Linked DNA regions of Homo sapiens: region 1 is linked to region 2. Evidence: fine-mapped QTL for protein levels in blood plasma. Region 2 holds a variant in brackets. A gene starts in the other region. All regions are shown on their forward strands.

Region 1 (9,868 bases), not on the chromosome of region 2:
CCCTTCGTCCTTCTGCTGGGCCCCAGAGGGGCCACCTTCCTTAACACTACTAAGAGGTACACCCGCAGTGGGGTGGTGACTTGGTTTTGGTCACCACCAGAGCAGGCTATTGAAAGTTACTATAGAGGTGTCACCTTGATGGCCACCAAGATGACAAGCTGCCCCTCCTTCACCACCTCGGCAACATGCCTCTGTCCTTGCAGCCCGGAGAGGGCTGTGGTCACTCCTGAGTCGCCCTTACCCAAAGGTGCCATGTGGAGCCCCAGTTTTACAGCTCTTTGTTGCTTTAAGCAAAATTTTAAAATGTTTGATCCGGGATTTCAGTCATTTTCAAGGACAGTGTAACTCAGATGACTCGGTTTGCCCTGTTTTGGGAACAACCCTCAGGCTCATTTTATAGATGTGAAAACTGAGGCTCAGAAAATTGTCTGCAGGCACACAAGCCCTAGAGGCAGGCTGCAGGTGGCCCACAGAACCCTAGGGGCAGACTGTTCAGCGGCACACAGAGCCCTAGAGGCGGGCTGCAGGTGGCGCACAGAGCCCTAGAGGCGGGCTGTAGGTGGCACTCAGTGCGTCCAATGTGGCTCCATCCCCTCCTGCTGCCTCTCAAGAGCAAAGTGGGGAAGGATGAAGGTGAGGTCCCCTGCACTCAGCCCTGGGGCCTCTACCTCCCACCAGGCTCAGCTGTCTGCTGGGAGGAGCTGAGGCCAGTTCCGAAGTCACTGGGGAGTGAGGCAAGCTGCTCCGCCAGGGCCTGCTGGATGCCAGGTGCTGGGACCCTGAGCTGGAGCCTCCCCCAGGCATCGATCCTGGGCCTTCTTTACCACCACACTGGGTCTCCCCGGGCCAGTCCAGCCCTGCTCCAGATGCCAGGCCCACCAGCCTGGGGGGCTCTGGGTGGCCAGGACCCTCTAAGTTACACCCTCTCGGAAGCTGCCCCAGATCACACTCAGCTCTGTGTGGCCTGGGCTCTCCTGCCCTCCACACCCAAGGCTTCGTGAGCTCAGAGCATGGCGATTGTGGGGACAGGGGATTTGTCATCCTGGCTCCCATCAGGGCAGCTGGGATCTTGACAGGGTGTCAAGAGGGGTGGATGGAGTGTGAGGCTGAGCCCCCAGTGGGCCGGGGCTCCCTATGAGCCCCCTCCAGGGGCCACTCCTCCTGGCACCTGGAGCCTCAGCAAAGGGAGGGCAGAGACTGCCATTAGGGGGCCATGCCATGCCATCAACTCCTGTATCCGGCCCAGCCCTGGGGGCAGCTGTCACCGGCTCCATTTTGCAGGTGTGGACTGAAGCTCTAGGGGTTGGGTGACTTGACTGAGTCCTTGGCAGGTGGTGGGAGAGGGAGTCAGCAGAGGAGCCTGTCGGCCTGGGTCTGTTCCTTCCTTGCTTGGGGTAGGGGTCTCAGGGACCCCCATGCTGCTTTATGAGTCCCAGGCCATGGTCTTTGTTGGAAGGCCCCCCCAACCCCCACAGAGGCTGGGATCCTGCTGACTCGGTGTGGTACCTCTCAGGAAGGAAGGGCCTCCGTGGCAGACCTAGCTATTTTGGGGGCTGCTGGGGGCCAGGGTGCTTCCTGCCACAAGGTGCTGGGCCCCCAAGTTTAGGGAGAACAGCAGTAGGGGTGCTGGAAAGTTTCACTTCCCTTGGCTGGGGTCCAGCTTCTGCATTTCAGTGAGTGTTTATGGAACAGAACGGGGTCCAGGAACCCTCAGAAACAGCAGCCCCCAGTCCTGGCAGTGTGTGCGCGTGTGTGCATGTGTGTGCATGCATGTGTGCATCTGTACATGTGTGCGTGTGCATGAGAGCATGTGTGTGCGTGTGTGCACTCACATGTGTACGTGACAGCATGCGTGTGTGCGTGCGTGTGTACATGTGTGTGCATGTGCATGAGTATTGTGTGCATGTGTGCATGTATGTGTACATGTGTGCGTGTGTGCATGAGAGCATGTGTGCGTGTGTGCGCATGTGTGACAGCATGCATGTGTGCGTGTGTACGTGTGTGCATGTGCATGAGAGTATTGTGTGCATGTGTGCATGCATGTGTGTGTACATGTGTGCGTGTGTGCATGAGAGTGTGTGTGCATGTGTGTGCATGTGTGCATGTGCTTGAGAGCGTGTGTGCGTGCATGTGCGTGAGCATGTGTGCGTGTGTGTGTGTTGTGTGCACACGTGTGACCTGGCTCTGGCCCCACCTCCCTGACAGGCTGTGTGACCTGGAGAGATTCAGTGCCCTCTCTGGGCCTTGGCTCCACCCTGTGAAAGTCCTGGCCAAGGGCAGCTGTGGGGAGTGAGGAACAAAGGGCGGGCACAAGCTTGAAAATGGGCACATGGAGACCCCAGCATGAGTGAGGGCAGAGGATGGTGATGTCATGGGCATCATCACGGGGGCCAATTTCCTCACTGCAGTTGGGGAAACTGAGACCCAGAGAGGGGTCAGAGCTGTGGTTCCCCCCTGTGTCAGCATCCAATTAGATCATGCCTCCCAGCATCACCTCATTGCAAGATGCAATCAGATCACGCCTCATTACCCTATGCTTATAAAACCTGCCCCAGCCCTCAGCTCGGGGAGACACTGCTTTGGGAGCTGTCTAGGTGTTCTCCTTACTTGTTGCAAGAAATAAAATCCCCTATTAAATCCTCTTTAGTTAACACCCGCCAAGCAACTGAGCCCACCCGTTGTGTGGGTAACAAAACTCTGGCGACCCAGATGGGGCCGACTGGGATTCTGATCCTAACTTCTTGAGGCTCACTAAGGTAAAGCAGTGGGCCGCGGCACCTTCCCCGGGCGAACTCACCCACGTGGCCCCAGAGGGTTGAGGGTGACTCCCGGGGATCTTCTGCTTGCTGCGTGGCCCGTGGGGCTGTCACTCCGCCCTACCCCCGAAACAGCGGAAGCAGCTGCCTGGAGCTTTTGTTCTGTGCTGCTCCTTCAGGGAAGAAAGTGGACTTTGCCCCGTGGGTTGACTGAAAGGGTAAATTCTTTGGACCTAGCAGTGGGATCTCTAGACTTCAGCGCAGGGCACCTCTGCTTTCGGTTTCTGTCTGGCTCTACGTGCCGTGGGGGATTGAGAGGCATCTCTGGCCAGGCCAAGGGCAACCCGGATCCCGGATCTGGGTAGACAACAGTGGGACTAGTTTTGGGAATTCGTTTTTTTTTTTTTGAGACAGAGTCTGGCTCTGTCACCCAAGCTGGGGTGCAGTGGCGCGATCTCGGCTCACTGCAAGCTCCACCTCCCGGGTTCACGCCATTCTCCTGCCTCAGCTTCCTGAGTAGCTGGGACCACAGGCGCCCGCCACCACGCCCGGCTAATTTTTTGCATTTTTAGTAGAGACGGGGTTTCACCGTGTTAGCCAGGATGGTCTCGATCTCTTGACCTCGTGATCCGCCCGCCTCGGCCTCCCAAAGTGCTGAGATTACAGGCGTGAGCCACCGCGCCCAGCATGAGAATTTGTTCTTTTTTAGAGAAACAGAATTTTTCACAGGAGGCTGAGCTGCTCCATCTCCCAGAGCCCCTACTTGCCATACCCCGGGTTACCAGAAACAGGAGCTCTGCCATTTGATGAAAAAAATACTTTTTTCAGATAAATGTTTTTGTCATATCATCACACAAAGCGGGTAAAGTTGTATATATATACATACAACTTTTTACAAATATGTGATCATATGTACAAAGGCTAGAAGGAAATATACAGAAAAATATGTATTAAAATACTGGTTTTTTTTCATTGTTTTATAAGATACTCTACAAAACATTACAATGAGGTAGGACTATTTTAGTGCTAGAGAATCTCATTAAATGAATTTGTTCAAGAGCTTCTTTGTCAGCTGGGTGCAGTGGCTCACACCTGTAACCCCAACACTTTGGGAGGCCAAGGGGGGCAGATTGCTTGAGCCTAGGTGTTCAAGACCAGCCTGGGCAACATAGGGAGACCCTGTCTCTACCAAAAAAAAAAAAAAAATTAGGGTGGGCGCGGTGGCTCACACCTATAATCCCAGCACTTTGGGAGGCTGAGGCGAGTGGATCACCTGATGTCAGGAGTGTAAGACCAGCCTGGGCAACATGGCAAAACCCCGTCTGTACTAAAAATACAAAATTTATCCAGGCATGGTGGTGGGTGCCTGTAATCCCAGCTACTTGGGAGGCTGAGGCATGAGGCAGAGGTTGCAGTGAGCCGAGATCATGCCATTGCACTACAGCCTGGGCGACAAGAGCGAAACTCTGTCTCAAAAAAAAAAAAAAAAAAAAATTAGCCAGGTGGTGGCACACACAGCTGTGGCCCCAGCTACTCAGGAGGCTGAGGCGGGAGAATCACTTGAGCACGGGGAGTTGGAGGTAATCGTACCGTGAGTACAGTGAGCCGTTATCGTATGGCTGCATTCCAGGCTAGACAACACAGTGAGACCTTGTCTCAAAAGAAAATAAATAAATAAATAAATAAATAAATAAATAAATAAATAAATAAAGAGCTTCTTTGTCAATATCCTTTTGTGGGTATACATCATAGTCCCACAGTACTTCTTCAACCCAGGGAGATAAATGTGTATTAGTCTGAAGACCCAGGAGAGAATCTTCAAGACTTGGCACTGTCACTGATGATGATCTGCTTCCTTACATTATGACAAATGTATTCCCAGCTCCGGCTTGTTCTGCCTCATTAAGAGAATATTTGAAGACATTATTCATGATAGCAGCATCAGCATTTTGCAGAAGAAACCCTGGGGACAGATGTCTGCATGAAGCACCTTTATTCTGTGAATAAACTGGTATTTTTTAATGACCATTTCCTGCAACTGGCAAAAGTCTCCGTTCAGTTCTACTCCACAGGGTTGCACTGCTAAGCTATAAGATCACCCCATAAAGACTGTGCTGAGCCTGGAGCTGACGTCAGCCACAGCCTTTCCTGATTGATCAGGGAGTGCATGAAGATAAATGAACTTCAATTCCATGAGGGAGAAGGAACGAGCAATCGGTCTAAAGGTTCTGTTTGGTGTGAACCACCCAGTAGTTTCTGCTCATTTTCCCTTTGTCACATAATGAATCAATGAAGTCTTTATCACAAAGGAATGCGTCAGCGTGAATGGTGGGTTCTGGCTGCTGCTGTAGTTTTTGAAGGGTTAGATGTTCTGAGGAAAGCATGGTTTCTAGAGGCAAGCAATTCTGAAGGTCTTCTGCAGTGGGTTTTTTTTTTTTTTAATTTTGAGACAAGGTCCGGCTCTGTCACCCAGGCTGGAGTGCAGTGGCTCGACTGTGGCTCACTGCAACCTCCAACTTCCAGGTTCAAGCAGTCCTCCCATCTCAGCCTCCCAAGTAGCTGAAACTACAGGCACGCACCCAGCTAATTTTTTTTTTGAGATGGGGTCTTGCTATGTTGTCCAGTCTGGTCTCAAACTCCTGAGCTCAAGTGATCCACCCCCTTCAGCCTCCTAAAGTGCTGAGATTACAGGCATAAGCCACCACACCCAACCTTTCTGCTGTGTTTTTAAACACAATGTCTTTATTTCCTTCAGTGAATTCATCAAAATCTCGGGCAGTTTGCATCTGCTGGAGCAGTGCCGGGCGGTCGGCAGAGCCACAGTATAGAGCAGTTACAAGATTTCCTGCCTTGCCGAGTGAAATCTATGCCTTCCAATTTTTTTTAATTAATTAATTTTTAAAAAATTAGATTGGTACAAAAGTAATTGCAGTTTTTGCCATTACTTTCAATGGCAAAAACAGCGGTTACTTTTGAACCAACCTAATATTATAGAGACAGGGTTTCACCATCTTACCTAGGTTGGTCTCGAACTCCTAAGCTCAAGTGATCCACCCACCTCGGCCTCCCAAAGCGTGGTGATTATAGGCATGAGCCACCATGCCCGCCCCTCCCCACCAATATATTTTTAAAACTAGTTGAGTGTGGGCCAAGAGTTGTGGGATCTGTGTCACCACCAATCCCGCCTCTAAGCTGCTGGGTGGGTAATATGGGAAAACAGTAATTGTAGCAGGACTCCAGTGGCAGAAGCCATGCGGATAAACTACAAAAAGCAGAAGGGACACTGGGGATGCTGACATCTCCATTGGTTGAGATTACCCTTAAGGTATTGAGCAACTGTGGCCAGGTCCAGGAAGGGCAAAAAAAAAACAAAAAACAAAAAACAAAAAGGCAACACAAGACAAGAAGCCATCGAGTCTCTTGGCTACAACCAGCCAGTACACAAGAAACAGTTCACTGCGGCCAGGCGTGGTGGCTCATGTCCGTAATCCCAGCACTTTGGGAGGCTGAGGCGGGAGGATCACCTGAGGTCAGGAGTTCAAGACCAGCGTGGCCAACATGGCTAACCCTGTCTCTACTAAAAATATAAAAAATTAGCCAGGCATGGTGGTGGGCACTTGTAATCCCAACTACTCGGGAGGCTGAAGCAGGAGAATCGCTTCAACCCAGGAAGCGAAGGTTGTAAGCTGATATCGCGCCATTGCACTCTAGCCTGTGCGACAAGAGCAAAACTCTTTCTTGAAAAAAACAAAAAACAAAAAAACAAAACAGTTCACTGGAGATGATCAGCCATAAGTAAGATCCCTAGGGACCCCACTGCCCGGCCAAAGGGCCTCCCGCCCTTGAGAACACAACAGTGTGCATATTGTAAACAAGAGGGCCATTGGGTACTAGAGTGTCCTAACTGTCCCCAGTGGGTAGGGAAAGAAACTTCCCCGTCAATCAGCCCACCAGATGCTACAGTTTGCTAATAGTGACCAGAAGTGATGGGACTTGGGGACTCCTCTATGATCTGGGAACCCCTAGATCGGGTAACAATTGCTGTGGGAGAGACTCACGGGTTTTCCGACACTAGAGCCAAATTTTTGCCTGTCTCCTTTCTACCGTGTTCTTCCTAAAATTTAGGAAAGGGCTTCTGCTGTATGGGAGAGATAAATTTTAGCTAAAATTGTTAGTTGGACGGAGACAGAGTTGGAACTGTCTTTTAAGTAGTGAATTTTACCTGACCCATGGCTAAACCTTTAAAAGTTAAAGCTATAGGATCGTTATTTGTATCTGGTAGTATGTACACGTCCGGTTATATTTGGCTATGGTACCGAATTGGCTTATAAAGAAATGAGTACTCATAAACTAAGCAAATAAGACCAAGTGCTTTTCAAGTTCACATGACAGTAATCTTTTGGTGAATGGAACTAGTCTAAAATTGTTGGTTTGATGGGAATGGTGTGCCTTCTGAAATGTAACTTAAAGGTTCTTACTTTTTTTTTTTTTTTTTTGAGACGGAGTCTCGCTCTGTCGCCCAGGCTGGAGTGCAGTGGCGTGATCTCGGCTCACTGCAAGCTCTGCCTCCCGGGTTCACGCCATTCTCCTTCCTCAGCCTCCCGAGTAGCTGGGACTACAGGCGCCTGCCACCACGCCCGGCTAATTTTTTGTATTTTTTTTTTTTTTTTAGTAGAGATGGGGTTTCACTGTGTTAGCCAGGATGGTCTTGATCTCCTGACCTCGTGATCTGCCCACCTCGGCCTCCTAAAGTGCTGGGATTACAGGCGTGAGCCACAGCATCCGGCCTTAAAGGTTCTTACTTTTATGATAGTTGCCTGACATCCAGCTATATAAAGGTAATTAACAGATAAATAATTTGAAATGATGACTAGCTTTGTCTAATATATCAGTTCTCATAAGTAATCCTGGTAAACTGCTAAAAATAAATAAAGTATGTAAAGGTAAATGGGATAAGTATCTATCGGCTTTTTAATGTAATTTGAAATCCTCTATTAGGTAATGGATACTCATTAACTATGTGAGTTATTTCCAAATAAGACAAAAACTGGAACAAATTGCTGACCATAAATATGTTTGCCCTGGGTCTCTTAAATTTAATATAAAGACTAAATATGTTTGGGCCTATAAATACGTATAAAAATTATGCTATAGGAAAACATGTTTTTCTAACAATTACAAAATGGCTCTTCCCCATAAAATACCAATATGTGATAGGAAGTTCAAGATTTTGTGCTTCCTATGTTTTCAACAAAATTTAAGGGAACTGGATGGGCACTGTGGCTCATGCCTGTAATTCCAGCACTTTGGGAAGCTGAAGCAGGAGGATCGTTTGAGATCAGGAGGTTCAGACCAGCCTGGGCAACATAGTGAAACTCTGTCTCTACTGAAAAACAAAAAAGAAAAAATTAGCCAGGGGTGGTGGCACATGCCTACTGTAGTCCCAGCTACTCAGGAGGCTGAGGTGGGAGGATCACTTGAGCCAGGGAGGTCAAGGCTCCAGTAAGCCAAAATCAATGCCACTGCACTCCAGCCTGGGTGATGGAGCACGACCTTGTTTCAAAAAAAGAAAAAAGATAATTAAAAACAAAAATTTAAGAGTACTAAGGGTTTTTAAAAATCCTAATATACAATTCTATATAGGAAGTGTGCCAAAAGTAAGGAGCACTTAATAAGAAAACAGTAAGAAAGGTATACAATATATTCTTTATTGAGAAAAAAAGTAATTTGTCTAATTTAGCTGTTATTTAAAGGGAGTTTTAAAATATGGATTTAGGAAAGAAATAGAAAAAAGATTAAAAGGAACCAGTAAGTAGATGAGACAGAGATGTAAAGAAAATTACAGATGTGAAGCAATGAGAGTAATTTTGTATAGGAAAGAAACTTGTGTGTTCAATCTCTGTCTTGGACTAAAATGACTAGACATTTAAGAAAGAGGAAGTACAGGGCAAGTCCAAGCATGCCACAGCTGTCTGAGTAAGTCATGATAAGGCTTGTGAATGGGAACTTATGATGGAAATGTTGGGTGTGATTAAATTGGCTGTAATTAAATGAAATGATTTGTAATAGTTTTTTTTTTTTTTGAGATGGAGTCTGGCTGTCTTGCTCATTTGCCAAGGCTGGAGTGCAGTGGTTCGATCTTGCCACACTGCAACTTGCATCTCCTGGGTTCAAGTGAGTCTCCTGCCTCAGCCTCCTGAGTAGCTGGGATTACAGGCGTGCACTACCATGCCTGGCTAATTTTCGTATATTCAGTAGAGATGGGGTTTCACCATGTTGGCCAGGCTGGTCTTGAACTCCTGACTTCAGGTGATCCTGGCCTCCCAACGTGCTGGGATTACAGGCATGAGCCACCATGCCTGGCCTGTAACAGTTTTTCTAGAGAATGAATTTGAATGTTAAAACACATGATACATAACTTACAATTTTGGTCCCCTGTGTTAAAACAACAGTGGTTTCGGCTGAGCGCAGTGGCTCATGCCTGTAATCCAGGCACTTTGGGAGGCCGAGGCAGGTGGATCATGAGGTCAGGAGATTTGAGACCAACCTGGCTAACATGGTGAAACCCCGTCTCTACTAAAAATACAAAATATTACCCAGGCTTGGGGGCGTGCACCTGCAGTCCCAGCTACTCAGGAGGCTGAGGCAGGAGAATGGCGTGAACCCAGGAGACGGAGCTTGCAGTGAGCCGAGATCACACCACTGCACTTCAGCTTGGGTGACAGAACGAGACTCCGTCTTAAAAACAAACAAACAAAAAACAGCAGTTTCTTAAGACATTAATTCACTCTTAGTAAAGTTCCAAGAGGTTTTGATATTTATTTCTAAAACCTGCTTCGTTAATAGCCATTCTCTGAATTACAAATTAGTTTCTGTTTCTGTCATATTCCTTCTTAAGATCAGTCTAATTTCTTTGGTTTCAGGTTTATCTCAAAGGTCTAGAAAAGCAGCTTTACGCCAGTATAAACTGATTCTGTGTTCTTGGTTTTTCTTAATGTGTCTGAGTTGTTTCATGTAACCAGGACTTCCCATGGTATTACTAATGTATTCCCCTGCTCACCAGCCTAGGAAACACAGATTGCTTAGGGAGACTGAGCTTTAAAGTGTTAAGG
Region 2 (9,878 bases):
TAGGGATTTTTTTTTACATGGCTACCCTTGAGTGATAGAGCCTTCATCAGCTTAGCTTGTCCTCTTGCAGCCTACGCCACTCTGTGCCCTTTAGCCAAGGAAGCCCAGCTGAGGCCCCGCAGCGTCCCTGCCCAGCAGAGCTACAGGAGGCCCGAGGCCCCTTCCTGTTCACTCTTGCTCTATAGACGCCACGCTGCAAAGCAGATGTGCAGGGACACCACCTGAAGACCCAGCCTGCAGCTCAGCCCTACACACTGTGGATGGTGGAGATCCCAGAGGGCCAAGAGAAGCTTATTGAGACTTCTCTGCACTGCCCCTCCCACAGCAGGAGGTTCATGGCCCATGCATTTCTGGGAGGGTTGACAGGGCCCAGGTTGTGGAATACCTGTCTGTGAGCCCCATGTCCTGTCTTGTCCCAGCTGCCTGTAGTTTGACAGAGTATGCTAGAGGTCAGCCATTGCTAGGGAGGCTGCCACTAACCACACAGAGAGGAAGGAAAATTCTCAGCCACAGCACTTAGAGCTGAGCCTGACATGGTCCTCAGCAAGATGTTGCAAGTTCCTAATCTGAACACAGAGGCCAGGGAGTAAGCATCATCTGGAGCCCAGAGCTGACTGTCATTACCCACAAACATAAACACCCTGAGTCTGGCCTTCTCCCCACCCTGCCGAGGTTGTCAGAGCCTCAGCACTGGCTCTGCCCTGGGTGGCAGCCCCTGGGAAGCCCAGCTGCCACCTCTCTACAAATGGCCCTGTAGAAGCTGTGCTCAGTGATCCACTTCCTGGGGGGGGCTGGGCCCACCTTGTTGCCATTACACCCCATTACAAACTGATGCAACCAGCTTTCAACAGACACTGCCAAGGAAGATACACATTACAACAGCATGCTGCAATACCTCTGCCTGTGCAAGAGACTGACCCACATCCAAAAAATGGACATCTTCCCACCCCAGTGTCTCACTCCACTGAGCTGGAAGTGGCCTTTGTCAGGACCCTGTGAGGTCTTGAGTGGATCTGCTTTTCCCAAGATATTAAACCAGTGACTTTAAATCCTGGCTGCATATTACCATCATCTGGGATATTAAAAAATACTGATGCCTGGATCTTGCTCCCACCCAAAGAGTCTGACTGAATTGATGGGGTTTTCAAACATTTTTTAAGTGTTTGTTGAAGGATGACATACATGCAAAAAAAAAAAAAAAAGCACAAACCATAAGTGTAAAGCTCAGTGAATTTTCACAAAATGAATTTACCCCGAGTAACCAGCATCCAAATCATGAAACAGAACATCACCAGCAACCCCTGGTACCCCTTCCACTTACTACCTGGCTCCAAAGGCTAATGTCCATTCTGGCTTCTAATGGTGTACAGTCATTTCTCCTGTTTTCAAACTTTATATGATGTAAATGGAATCAGGCAGTATATATCCTCTTGTTGTGTTTGTGAGATGATTCATCCAAGTTGTTACTTAGAGCTGCAGTTTATTCACTCTTCTTGCTATAGAGTATTCCACTCTATGGATATTCCTCGATTTATCCATTCTACTGTGATGCATTTTTGGATATTCGAGTTGTTATTTATAATTCGGAACTATTCTGACTATTGCAATGACATGCTAGTGTGTATTTTTGGAGTACATGTATATCCATTGCTGGGGAAGCATGGGTATGAGTATGTTCAGCTTTAGTACCTTATGCCAAATAATGTTCCCAGGTGGCTGTACCCATTTACACTCCCTCCAGCAATGTATGAGAGTTCTGGTTGCTTCACATTTTTGCCAACCATAGATATTTTCTATCTTTTTCATGTTAGCCATTCTGGCAGGTATGTAGTGGTATCACAGTGTGGTTTGAATTTGCATTTCCCTGATGACTAATACAGCTGAGCAACCTTTCATATGTTTGTTAGCCATTTAGATCTTCTCTTTGCAAAGTGCCTGTTGGAATATTTGGACATGAGTATTTTTAAAAAGCTCCTTAGGTAACTCTACTGTGTAGCCAAGGTGGAAAACCACTGAACTAAAACCACAAATTAGTATCTGCGTCTCCCTTTCTTCATGATTTGCCTTTGAACTTAGAGCATTTTGGATCTGAGAGGACCTCGTGGAACTGGGAAAAGATTATATTCACTCCCTACTAAGATGAGCCTGTCAGGAAGAAGCAATTGGAGCTGGCAGTTAAGAATCTTTAGGAATGTGACCTCTACTTCAGAAGGGTCCAGGGAGGGCCTGTGGTGTCCACAGCTGCCACAGACATTTCCTAACCACAAAAATGGCCCCTTGGTGGTCTCCCCAGAGCTCCAGGCAGTCATGGGGAGGAAGCGGAGGGCCCCATGCCAGGTACTTCCCAGTTTCTAGGCCAACATGAATGGGACACAGCTCATATGGGGTTGTGGTTAGACTGGGGACAGTGGAGCATATGTTCTGGGGACCTGGGTGTGGCCAAGGGAGGCCTCCTGTCTGTGGCCTTTGTCCCAGATTGGAAATCAGCCAGTGGGGCTCTCCTACATGGGTCCAGGCCTGGCTAGCTCTTGAATTCTGTGCGTTTGCATGTGGGTCCTTATGCATGCGTCCTAGAGCAGGGTCCCAGGGGGCCACTCCCCCCCCCGACCCCTTACTCCTCTAAGCTGGGAAACACGTGGCATGAGAGAACACACTGTGGCTTCTAATGACATCGTGTCTTGATTGCATCCCCATTGCATCATCTGGGCTCATCTCATCCCCACCTCTGGACTGTAACATCATCCCAGGGACTGCCGGACACTCATCTGTGCTCCCCCACAGAGAGTATAATGCCATTTGGTAATTCAGTACAGCCTCTTCCAACTTGAGAAAGAAGATGCATTTCCTTCCCTCAGTCTTGAGCTGTGCAGGTGTCACGCTGAGCTGCCCTGTGTGGGCTCCATGTTGGCACACATCGGTTGCAAGGGGCTCTGTGTAGTGAGTCTGGAGTTGGACCACTGGCCAGGCGCTGGGATGCTAGTGCCTGGACTGAGTGTGCACAGAGGCCCCTCAGGCAGAGCCACAGTGGGCGCTGAACCTCCTGGTGAAGTTCACCGCAGTAACTAGAGCTCAGTGGGAGGGGCTGGCCTATCAGCACCTGTCCTGTGTGCTTTTTGAAAAGAGCAGGGTCTACCTTCTGTCAACTGAAGTCCTGCCAGCTGCATGGCATGAGATGAGGGACAAAGTGGCACGTGAACAAAGTTGACATTTTGGAGGCTGTTAGGCTCAGAGCCAACCCTGGGCTCCATGTAGTGCCATGACTCATGGATTCAGGCCCATCTTGGAAATTGCTCTGGGCGTAGAGCTCTCATTTCTGATAGTCCAAGTGCAGATATTGGGGTTCCTCTAATTGGCCCAAATGGTGGCCTGCACCAACCAGCGACCAGAGTGCTGTCTGAATCTAGAATAACAGGAAGAACACGCCTCCAGCAGTGTAGGAGAGTTCCCCATGCAGTGTGCTTCCCATTCTTACCAGCAGTTGGTATCTTCTGTCTTTTTCACACTGGCCATCTGAGTCTCATAAGGAGACTCCTCTCCTTCCACTGAGCCTGCATCCCAGCCTCTCCCCTTTCTTCAGGGACCTCTCCCCAGCAATTACGCCCTTCCATTCTCTCAACCAGGGAATCTTCAAACTCTTCTTCTCCACTGGCTCCTGCTGTGCTCCTGTCTCCATCACCTGTATAATGCTTCCTGCCATCCTGCCTTCCCCGTGGAGTACAGCCATGCTGTCTGCTGCTTACAGCCAAGATTCTGGAAAGAAATGTCTCCTTTTTCCTCGTCATCAACCACTCATTTATTCAGCAAGTGTTTCTTTTACACTTGCCTGTGCTGGGCATGGCAGCAATGCAGCAGTGAACAAAACCATCAGCCCTGCTCTCATGCAGCTTATAATCAAGTAGAGAGACAGACATAAATGATTAATAGATGCTCCTGTAATGGTGGTTGTGAGGTGTGCTGCCACAGCCCAGCCACACACGCCAGTTCCCTTCTCTGCACATGTACATGTCTGCTCATCCTTCCCACCTGAACTCATGTGCCACCTCACTTATGCCCCTTCCCAATGCCGCACCCACACAACAGGGTGTCCCTCTGTGCCCACAGCAGCCCTTGGGTATAACTGTTCCCCACAGAGGCTGAACCCCAAGGGCAGAGTCCAGGCCACACTCACCACGGAGACCCCTGCCTGGCACAGAGCCCAGCCCAGCAGAGATGCTCAGAAGATGAATGAAAGTCCCTGCTGAGATTGATCCAATCTGTTTGTGAACATCTCTGGGGTCCAAGAATTCACGGCTTTCTTTTTCTTTAGAGAGCCTTTTGTTTCTTTTTGCCATTATATACTATATTTGGGTTAGGGCACAACAATGTGAATATACTTAATACTGAACTCTACACTTGAAAATGGTTAAGATGGTAAAGTTTTAAGTTATATGTATTTTGCCACAATTTTTTAAAATGCAGAGCATAGGTACAAAGAAGGAAAAAAAGGGGGCAAGGTCCATTTTATTGAGAAATAAAGAACAAAGGGTTCAATTCAGAGAGGATTGGATTTTAAAACGTAATTTAGATTAGGGAAATGCAAATGAAAACCATAATAAGTAAGATACCACTTCACATCTGTTAGGATGGCTATTTTAAAACAACAAAAACAACCTGAAAATAAGTGTTGGCAAGGATGTGAAGAAATAGATACCCTTGTGCATTGCTATTGGGAACGTAAAATCATGCAGCCTTTGTTGAAAACAATGTGGTGGTTCCTCAAAAACTTAGTTATCATATGATCCCGCAGTTCCACTTCTAGGAATATACCCAAAAGAATTGAAAGCAGGGACTCAAAGTGATATTTGTACACCAGTGTTTGTAGCAGTATTATTCACAATAGCCAAAAGGTGGAAACAACCCAGATGTCCATGACA[A/G]GAGGAGTGGATAAACAAAATATGGTGAATATGTACAATGGAACATAATTCAGCTTTAAAAAGGAATGAAATTCTGGTACATGTTATAACATAGATGAACCTTAAAAACATTATGCTAAGTGAAATAAGCCAGACACAGAAGGAAAAATACCAGATGATCCCACTTATATGAGGTACCTAGAATAGTGAAATTCATAGAGACAGAAAGTAGAAGGATGGTTGCCAGGGGCTGGAAGGAGGAAGAACAGGGAGATACTGCTTAGTGGATGCAGAGTTTATGTTGAGGGTGATGAAAAAGTTCTGGAGATGGATGGTGGTGATGGCTGCACAACAGTGAGAATGTACTTCATACTATGGAACTCTGCACTTAAAAATGGTTAAAATGGATGTAGACATTTTATGTCTATTTTGCCATAACAAGAAAGTAATTTGGGTGTATTTTAGAGATTTTAGAAAATACTGTAAGCACAAGAGGAAAAAAATTAAAATCATTCGCAATCACCAGGTAGAGACAACGACTGTTGAAAGATCAGTGTGTATCTTTTCATTCTCGTTCTCTCTCTCAAAAAAGTGTGTGTGTGTGTGTGTGTGTGTCTTCAGATGTCACACTGGACTTTCAGGAAAGGTTCCCCTCTCTGCTGCTTCCCTGCTGGAGCCATGGAGAGCAAGTCTATCCCTGTTCCATAGGTCAATCCTTTGAATGATTTCTCATGGCTGAGTTCACTCCCCTGCACCTCCAGGGTTGCACTTCTCTGAAAATACTCATTTATTTTATGTGTCTACTAAAAACATGGCACCCACGACCCAATAATATGTTGGAAGGGGTTGGAGAGAGAAACGCGAGTACCTCTCACACCTTCTCACACACTACACATCTTAGCGATGGCCGAGTGAGCATGTTGGCTCTCTGGACTCCTCAGTCTGTTGGTCTGGGCTGCGCCAGGCTCAGGCTCCCTGCCTCCCCCCCAACCTTGATCCCCTTGCTTCTTGAACCTGATGCTGGGCCTCACATTCTCCGTTGATTCTAGCTCTTAAATCCTGCTTCTCCAGCTTGTCAGGAGGCTGTGCCCTCACACCCCAAAGAGCAGATCTGCCCTCTCCACTGAGAGGGAAGGAGTGAAGGTCCCACAGCCTCTGACCCCTGCTGGGCCCAAGAGAGGAACAGCTGCTTGCTTTATTTCTCGTGGGAGAAGTGTGTCTCCTCTTTGTCTCAGGCACCCCTCTGCCCTGTACAGCAGCAAGTCAGCAGGAATGAGCTGAGCCGCCCAAGTAGTGGCTCCCTCCACTATGGGGGCTCTGTGGTCCTGGGGGCTGTCCTGCCTCCACTGCCATAGGCCTGGCCCCAGAGCATGCTGCAGTGGTCACAACCTGTGGAGGTGCCCCCAGACCCCCATATTTGGGCCCAACTACAGCCTCCTTCCCCAGCTTTGCCACCTGGCTTGGGAGCCAGGGCACCACCAGCTTCACTGGCAGGGAGAGATGAAGAAAGAGGCCATAGCCACGCAAGTGACTGAAGTTCATGTTCGTGCACACCAATTAGAGAGGGACAGCACGTTCATTTACCTCCAAATCCAGCCACAGACACATCGCCCTTTTCTCTTGGCTCTGAGGCCTCCACAGAAGGGTTTTTTAAGGTTGCAGCCAGGACCTTTATAGCCTAGTCCTGAGAAGATTATCTTTTTATTGCAACTTTGATTAATGATTGATCAAAAACTGATACTAGAAACACTGAAGAACAAATTTGCTGTAGACATTAGGAAAGGTCTACATCTGGCAGGCCTGGAGACCTGCCCACCCTCTCCCCCCACGGTCAAACCAGGGCAAAGGTACATTGGAAGACCCAACCCCTACACACTCTTACACGTGCACTCGCACACACACACTGAGGGGAAAGAAATATTTAATTGTCCTTAAATCCTCTTGGATTAGGCTATAAATTGCAAATAAATGGAGCAACAGACAGAGCAAAAGCACATAAGGTCCTTTAATAGAATTTCTCTATCTTATTCTGTTTCTATGAATGCCTGTTACAAATTAGCAGCTTAAAGGGAAACCTGGAGTGTGGGAAAGAGCGACCCTTGTGTGAAGTCCACAGCCGGGGTTTCCTACAGACCTCAGGTCCCAGAGAACATCTAAGATGCCTCCAACACCAGATGGAGGAGGGCAGGAGATGCTGCACAGAGAAGCAGCACTTCCCGAGCATCTGTGGCAGGAAGTGACTTGGAGAGGATGAGGCCGTGCCTCAGGTGTGCTCTAGCTGTTCTGATGGTCTCTGAGGCCACGACTGCCATGGTGAGGTCCACAGCCTGCATCAGAATCACCAAAGGGCCCAAACGTACGGCCTCAGAGCCTGGAGAGCCAGGAATCGGCATTGCAACAACTCCCTGCTCAGTGGGTTCTACCAGTCCAGTACCTGCCCTCTGAGGGTGCCCAGGGAGCAGGGTGCTTGCTGGCTGGAACACTTTTTCCTGCCCCTCAGCTCCTCTGTGATGCCCTGAGGCACGGGCACTGGAAAGCTGGCAGAGCTGCTTCTAAATTGAAACTGGAAAATGAAACTGGAAATCACAGTTTCATTTTCCAGTTTCACTCGCTCCCCCTACTGTTGGGGTTTCTTTTCCACAAGGAGAGTCCCCCAGGGAGAAAGAAGCAGGAGTGGGAGTGGGGGAGCATGTTGGGGGAAGGCAGTGAGGGTGTCCTGTCTGCAGCAGGGCATGGAGGGGCCCCAGCGCTGCACTTGCTTCCTTTAAGCCTGGCCTGCTTGCTGTCAGCCCCGGGGGTGGTTTCCTCTCTAGGAAAAGCTAATGTCATGCTTATGCTGAAAAACTCTTTTCAGAGGTACTTTAGGAGGGGCCTGGCTCTCGATTAATCTGGGCCATTTCATACCGGCTGTGCTCACCCAGGCACAAACACTGAAAGCAACAGCTGGCAAAGCCATCGCTTGGTAGCAGCTTGGAAGACACCACCAAAGAAGCTCTCATGGAAGCGGCAGATTTCCTGAAGCGACTGGAATGCGGGGAAGGAGGGCAGTCGGGGAGAGCCGAGAACCAGCCCCCCTGCCAACTCCACCCCATTCCTCTCCTCACCTGAAATGTCTCATCCTTAGAACAGCTGCCCTAACCCCCTAATCCCACACACTCCTTTGTAGGTTAAGACCCCTGAAGTTGCACCCTCTCGTAGGAGCTATGTTTTTCAGAGATCCATGTGATTATTTGCCTAATGTCTGCCTCCCTCAGGGAAGTAAAGTCTGTGACGCGTGGACCTGGTCTGTGTTGTTCACTGTGCATCCACAGTGCCTGGGTAGTGCCTGGCATGCAGGAAGTACACACAAAAAATATGTGTTCATGAGTGAGGGCAGGCTTGAAGAGCCCAAGAGAAGGACAGTGCTCCAGGGAGGCGTCTGCATCAGGCTCCCCAGTGTCTGGACTGCATCCCAGCCCCTCCGAGCAACTTCAGGGGAGGATTCTGTGAACAGATGCCCCAGCTCTTCCGCCCACAGCTCCTACCCCCAGCCTGAGGAATGCTTTGACTGTCCCCAGTGTGTGCAGGCAGTGGGGAGGTGATAGGGGGAGGTGTCCCACATGGCACACTCTCCCTAGCCCTTGCTTTGCCTCCGTTACCTACATAGATGGGCTTCACAGCCTCTTCCAGATAGGCAGGGCACTGAGCTCTGTGGGCCACACCTAAAAAGAAAGGGAGACAAGCTGGCGGTGGGGGCATGACAGTGTTTTTGTTTGTTTGTTTGTTTTTTGAGATGGAGTTTCACTCTTGTTGCCCAGGCTGGAGTGCAATGGCGTGATCTCGGCTCATCGCAACCTCTGCCTCCTGGGTTCAAGTAATTCTCCTGCCTCAGCCTCCCGAGTAGCTGGGATTGCAGGCATGCACCATCACACCCAGCCAATTTTTGTGTTTTTAGTAGAGACGGGGTTTCTCCATGTTGCTCAGGCTAGTCTCGAACTCCCAACCTCAGGTGATCCACCCACCTCAGCCTCCCAAAGTGCTGGGATTACAGGCATGAGCCACCGTGCCGGGCTGACAGTGGTTTTTAAAGGGGGAGGGCAGATGAAGGACGTTGGTGGACCATCCTCTGGGAGGAGATGTGGACTGAGGAAGCAACGCTGACCTCAGGCCCCACACCACCCTTTCACCTCAGCCTCACTTTCTCATCAGTAAATGGAACTCGTTCTTGTGTATGTGCCATGGAGGCAATGTAGCAGAAGAGAATAGGGCAGACTTTGGAACTCAGCCATCTGGGAGAAAATCCTAGTTATGTGATGACCTTGAGCCAATGACTGAATTTCTCTGTCTCATTTTCTCTTCTGTAAAATGGGGACAATTACAGTGAATTCTGTGAATTCATTCATGTCCCTGACACATGGTGTGAGCTCAGTCATTACCTTTGCGAGGGTTGCAAGGATGTAATGAGATGGCAGATGTGAGCACAGCTCCCAGACCCGAAGGTGCTGTATGAATGGGAGGGAGCAGTGAGTGTTATTTGGGAAATATTGAAGACACAACTTCCCTCCCACATTTGTCTGGGGTGGAGCAACAGTTTTACTTATTTAATGATAAGCTGGAAGATGCACCAAAGGGAGGTGAAAAACTGAAACCGCCAACCGTTTGAGCTCCAGGCTGCACCGAAGCGGTGTGGCTGGTGCAGATGGTGAGAGCCCCAGTGCCGGCCCACTTCCTCCATGAGTGCCACACGCCTTTCTCAAGCTAGCCGGCTTCCCAAGGCTGCAGGAAGTGGGGCCAGGAACAGGCCCTCCGGCTGTGTTGGGGGAGGCCTGGGCAGGGGTTGGCAGCTGCTGGGTGTGAACGGAAGTCTTGGAGGTCCTTGAAGGTCCTGGGGCCGCCTGCACAGCAGCCCCTGCCCTCTCCCTGTCCAGGCCTGCCCAGGACTAGCTTGTAGCAGACTCTTCTTGTAGCCTAGGCTCTTGCCTCTTGCAGTAGTGAGCCATTGTACAA

Alleles and levels. Positions count from the first base shown, and alleles are read on the strand shown. Strength reflects both the effect of a copy and how common the allele is.
In carriers of allele G in region 2, the plasma level of the protein whose gene starts at base 2,945 in region 1 tends to be lower than with A alone (weak association).

Evidence for each region. PIP is the posterior inclusion probability: the model's chance that the variant is causal. The UK Biobank Pharma Proteomics Project read protein levels with antibody pairs (Olink). The fine-mapping took linkage between variants from a reference panel, not from the people measured, so its PIPs are less certain.
Region 1: ACY3 starts here. The variant in region 2 is fine-mapped to the plasma level of the ACY3 protein (UK Biobank, PIP 0.99).

The regions. Positions count from the first base shown.
Region 1 is chr11:67,647,786-67,657,653 of GRCh38, forward strand. ACY3 (aminoacylase 3) reads right to left here and starts at 2,945. Exons shown (of 8, transcript NM_080658.2): 1 at 2,798-2,945. RefSeq lists enhancers at 327-406, 817-1,339, 867-1,286, 3,017-3,096, 3,167-3,226.
Region 2 is chr5:132,456,942-132,466,819 of GRCh38, forward strand. The region is part of intron 3 of CARINH (colitis associated IRF1 antisense regulator of intestinal homeostasis); the gene reads left to right. Among named protein-coding and RNA genes, the nearest start is that of IRF1, 29 kb to the right of the region's middle. RefSeq lists enhancers at 1-142, 143-812, 7,035-7,999, 7,889-7,958, 8,000-8,964 and 3 more. The variant A/G (reference allele first, on the strand shown) is at 4,914.